2 separate regions of the Homo sapiens genome follow, and region 2 is linked to region 1. A link means that fine-mapping ties the variant in region 1 to the expression of a gene that starts in the linked region. Tissue or cell type: thyroid. Region 1 holds a variant in brackets; the other region holds the start of a gene. All regions are shown on one strand. Distances are from middle to middle.

Region 1 (2,686 bases):
AGGCTGAGGCAGGAGAATTGCTTGAGGCCAGGAGTTTGAGACCTGCCTGAGCAACATAGGGAGACCCCATCTCTATAAAAAAAAAAATGTTAATTAGCTGGGCATGATGATGCATGCCTGTAGTCCCAGCTACTCAGGAGGCTAAGGCAGTAAAGATTGCTTGAGCTCAGGAGTTTGAGACTGCAGTGAGCTATGATCATGACACTGGACTCCAGCCTGGGTGACAGAGTGAGGTGAAAAAAAAGTTAATAAAGAAGGAGTATACTGAGACATGTCCGACCTCCCATCCTGTCCTGGCCAGAACTCAGTTTTGAAGGTTTCTCTGGGTACTCTTGGCCAAAAGGGGGTCTGTTAGGTCAGTTGGGAGGCTTAGGATATTATTTGTCTGCCGTACTCTGATTAGTACAGATTTTGGTACCAGGAGTGGTTCTAGAGGAACAGAATTTTAAAAATGAGTTCCCCTAATTGGTTTTGGGGTTTCTAAAATTGTCTCTTTAATGTGACCACACCTAAAAATGCTCGGAACTCTACTTCTAACAGTACAGAGAGCACTGCTAATTCATGTCCTAAACTGTTTATAGAGATACACAAAATATCTGCATTTGATGCTCCAAATCTAAATCCAAATTAATGCAAGGAACTTGATGACTCTGTACATGACACCTTTAAACATTTGTGGAAAACTAAGGAAAATAATAACATTGATGGGCTGCTTCTAATGTCACTGGTCAAAGTGATGGAAAAATATAACAGAGATTCAAATTTCCAGCTCCAGTTCTGCATAAATAACCTACAAGCTTCTAAGTGTGCCCTGAGCCAGAATCTTCTCTTCTGTAACTGCAGGGCTGAAATTGCTGAAAATCAAACACAAGCCCTTATCATCTGATTGGCTGATTTACAACAAAAGTTGGACTCAGCCTCTCAGAGTGTCTGGTGTGAAATTAAGGGCAGTGATTGGGAGAGAATGGGATTCTGTAAATTGGGATGAGGATGTGTGGAAAGACTCTGATGAAACTGGGGACATTGAGCCCCTAAATTCTGATGAGACTTGTTTGCCAAGCAGAGGTGGTCTTACAACCCTCAC[C/T]CCCAGGCAGCAGCCTTCCCACCCACAACAGTATCAATATCAGCCTTTCCACCTGTGTCTGAAGGGGTTAGCCCTTCCTTGCCCGAGGAAACAGTAATGGCGTCCCAAGGCAGTTTCCAAGACAAGGCTGATTCTCCTCAGGACCCACCCTCACCTCCCCTCTTTGTTTCTAGCCCTATAACCAGACTCAAGTCCCAGCAGGCCCCTAAAGGTGAGGTAGAAAACGTGACTCATGAGGAGGTATGCTACATTCCAAAAGAACTACTTGAGTTTTCTAATTTATACAAGCAGAAATCTGGGAAACATGTGTGAGATGGATATTAAGGGTGTGAGATAATGGTGGAAGGAACACAAAGTTGGATCAGGCTGAATTTATTCATATGGGACCACTAAGCAGAGATTCTGTGCTTAATGTTGCAGCTCCAGGAGTTAGGAAAGGTGCTAACCATCTGTTTGGTTGGTTGGCTGAAACATGGATCAAAAGGTGGCCCACTGTGAGGGAGCTGGAGATGCCTGCTCTCCCTTGGTTTATTGTAGAGGAAGGGATTAAAATGCCTAGAGAGAATGGAAGCCTGTACTGGATTTATCACTTAAAATCTGCTCACCTATAAAGGGAGGGTCTGAAGACATACCTTTCACCAATACTGTGAGAAACAGATTTGTGAGCAGAGCCCCAGCATGCCTGAAGAACTCCGTGATTGTTCTTCTCCAGAGGATGGACCTTGCAGTGGGAGGCACAGTTACTCAATTGGAAAACATAAATGCAATGGGAATCATTGGATCCTGGGTGGCTGGGGCCAAGCTGCAGCTCTCAATCACTAAAGCAATGTGGATGTGTTTACCATAATAAACAGCAGAGGCAAAGCAACAATCAGAATAGTCTGACTTACGTAGATCTGTGGCATTGGCTAGTTAATCATGGTGTTCCTAGAAGTGAAATAGATAGGAAGCCTACTACATTCTTACTTGATTTATATAAGCAGAACATTTCCAGGTCAAGTGAACAAAATTCTACCTTGAATCATAAAAACAGAAAATCATGGCCTCTCAATCAGTTCCCAGACTTGAGCCAGTTTACAGACCCAAAACCCCTCTAATGAAGGGGGGGCCAGGGCCCCTCCAGGAAGGAGCCTGGTATACTACCAAAAATATATACTGTTAATCTTTCTCTGATCTTTCCCCAAAGAGACCTCCGGCCTTTTACCAGGGTAACTGTGCACTTGGGAAAGGAAAATAATCAGACATTTTGGGGACTACTGGACATTGGCTCTGAACTGACATCGATTCCAGGAGACCCAAAACATCACTGTGGTTCACCAGTCAGAGTAGGAGCTTATGGAAGTTAGGGGATCAATAGAGTTTTAGCTCAGGTCCAACTCACCGCAGGCTCAGTGGGTCTCCGGACCCATCTTATGGTCATTTCCCCTGTTCCAGATGCATGATTGGAATAGACATATTCAGCAGCTAGCAGAATCCCATGTTGGTTCCCTGACCAGTAGGGTGAGGGTTATTATGGTGGGAAAGTCTAAATGGAAGTCCATTAGAGCTGCCCCTACCTAGGAAAACAGTAACTCAAAACCAGCATCACATCCCTGGAGGGAT
Region 2 (2,686 bases), 640 kb after region 1:
TGGGAGTTCGAGACCAGCCTGACCAACATGGAGAAACCCCATCTCTACCAAAAATACAAAATTAGCCGGGCATGGTGGTGCATGCCTGTAATCCCAGCTGCTCGGGAGGCTGAGGCAGGAGAATCGCTTGAACCCGGGAGGCGGAGGTTGTGGTGAGCCGAGATCGCGCCATTGCACTCCAGCCTGGGCGACAAGAGCGAAACTCCGTCTCAATTAATAAATAAAGACAAAAAGGCTATACATAGATAAACTATTTGGATTAACCAATAATGAACATTATCTATTATTTTATAATCATAAAGTAAGTGATTTGGACAGGGAAATTGGATGGTGATGGGCTATTAAAGTTAACAAGAGGAAAATCAGTATTTTTTTAGAGAAGGCTTTCTAGTGGAGGTTAAACTCCACACTGGCCAAATAGCAACAGGAGCTTAGCGGTGTTCCAACCAACCACAGGAAATAGCTCAGAGGGGGAGTGAACTGATTATATGAATGGGGCATTGAGTAAGGGAGCCTGAGAGAAGGGGAATCGTCAAGGGGAATAAGGCTGGTTCAGCGTGCACTAAAGTCTCCAAACTGGAGAGAGGAGGCAGCAAAAAAGTGCAAGAAGAAAAAGTACAGTAGTTTCTTATCTCGACAGGCAAGTTAAGGACTAGGGGTTGCACTACCTGGAAAGCTAGCAAACGCCCTGGGAGTGAAAAATTTCCAGAGAGGGCCCTTCCTGGAAAAACGCAGCCCCGGTGTTCCCTGATTTCCTGGCTGGGTACCATCGGGCAGTGGACTGGAGAGGCGCAGGGATGTTTTAGGCAGGTGTCTCTTGGGTGTTGGCGTGGACTACATAGCGGAGGTTCAGCCGCGGGACTAGCATTGAGCGACAAGAAGGCGGCGGCGCGTGCAAACCACAAGACTTACCTTACTGTCATCCATCGCGGCAGACAGGCCGGCCTGGCCAGGCACTCCCTCCCGGAGCCCTCCCCCGGCTCAGCCGGCCTGGCCCGGCCCCCGCCCCGAGGAAGAAGGGGATATGGTTCTGGCTGCCTCCTCCTCTCGCCTAACAGTTCGCTTCCCTGATGCCAGAGTCACGGGGACGAGGGACCAGTTCAGGAATGGCAGAGCGGACCCTGGAGGCGGCCCCAAACGCCTCCCTTCGCCGCCGCCGCCTCCTCCTCCCCCTCCATGACAGTCTCTGGGTGTTTACAGACGCTCTGGAGAGCCGCCGAGACCGGAGGGTGGGCGGGAGCGCTGCACACGGAATGGCCCCTTCGGCTGCCGTAGCACCGCGGCATTCTGGGAATTGTGATTTTTCTTATCACAGTCTCTGCGCTACTGACTGGAAAAAAAACTACGATGTCCACATAGCCTCATTAAGGGGCAGCTGTTTTCCTTTTGCCTACTAGCTAGCGCTGAGGAGGCGGGGCTGGGCTGGAGGCCCAAAGTGCGCCTGACCTGAGGTTTTGGCTCCTAAGTGCCAGGGCCTGGAATGGCGGGGACGGGAGTTTGGTGCTCTGCGGAGGCAGCCCTGAAGGCGGGGTGCCGGAAGCAGGCCCTCCTCTGGGACGCTGAGGAAACCCTAAAGGTTCTTTATTTAAAAAAAAACGAAAAACAAAAACTAAGTATGTAAAATAGTGCAGCTACTTTGGGAAGAAATTTGGCAGTTCTTCAGAATATTGGCCACTCCCATACCCAAGAGAAATTAAAACGAGTGACTACACAAAAACTTGTATATAAATGTTCTTTCCTAGCAGCATTATTCATAATAGTCAAAAAGTGGAAACAACGCAAATGTCCTTTACTGGATGAATGGATAAACCAGTGTGGACTATACAAATTAAGAAATACTGGCCAGGGGTGGTGGGTCACGCCTGTAATCCCAGCACGTTGGGAGGCCGAGGCGGGAGGATTGCTTTAGCCCAAGAGTTCGAGACCAGCCTGGGCAACATAGCAAAACCTGTCTCTACAAAAAAATACAAAAATTAGTCGAGTGTGGTGGCACATGCCTGTAATCCCAGTTACTGGGGAGGCTGACATGAGAGGATCACTTGGGCCTGGGAGGCAGAGGCTGCAATAAGCCAAGATTGTACCACTGCACTCCAGCCTGGGCGACAGAGCCAGACACTGTATTTAAAAAAAAAAAAAAGAAGAAGAAGAATGAAAGAAGGAAGAAGAACGATGAAGGAAGAAGAAGGAGAAGAAGGAAGAAGAAAGAAGAAGGAAGAAGACCCATATAGTAAGATGCAGTCTCTACAAAAAAAATTAAAAATTAGTTGGGTGTGTTACAAAAAATTTAAAAATTACTTGGGTGTGGTGGTGGTGCTTGTAGTCCTAGCCACTCGGGAGGCCCAGGTGGGAGGATCGTTTGAGCCCTGGAGTTGGAGGCTGAAGTGAGCTGTGATCACGGCACTCCAGCCTGGGCAACAGAGCAAGACTCTGTCTCAAAAAAAAAGGAAAGAAATATTATTCAGCAATGAAAAAAAATGAAGGGATATACACACTTCAATATGTCTGAACCTTGAAAACTTTATGTGAAGTGAAAAAAGCCAGACACAATAGGCCACATATTGTATGATTCCATTTATAATGAAGTGTCTGGAACAGGCACATCTAAATAGACCAAAAAATCCATTAGTGGTTGCCAAGGGCTAGGGTTGAAGAATGGCAGGGATGGAGGGATCCTGGAAAGGAGAGT

The links. PIP is the estimated chance that this variant, and not a neighbour inherited with it, causes the effect.
Region 2: CREBL2 starts here. The variant in region 1 is fine-mapped to the expression of CREBL2 in thyroid (GTEx, PIP 0.98).

What each region holds. Positions count from the first base shown.
Region 1 is chr12:13,246,396-13,249,081 of GRCh38, reverse strand. No RefSeq gene overlaps it. Among named protein-coding and RNA genes, the nearest start is that of EMP1, 51 kb to the right of the region's middle. The variant C/T (reference allele first, on the strand shown) is at 1,085.
Region 2 is chr12:12,610,414-12,613,099 of GRCh38, reverse strand. CREBL2 (cAMP responsive element binding protein like 2) reads right to left here and starts at 1,224. Exons shown (of 4, transcript NM_001310.4): 1 at 913-1,224. The coding sequence starts at 927. RefSeq lists a silencer at 871-1,170 and enhancers at 1,331-1,380, 1,431-1,510, 1,104-1,855.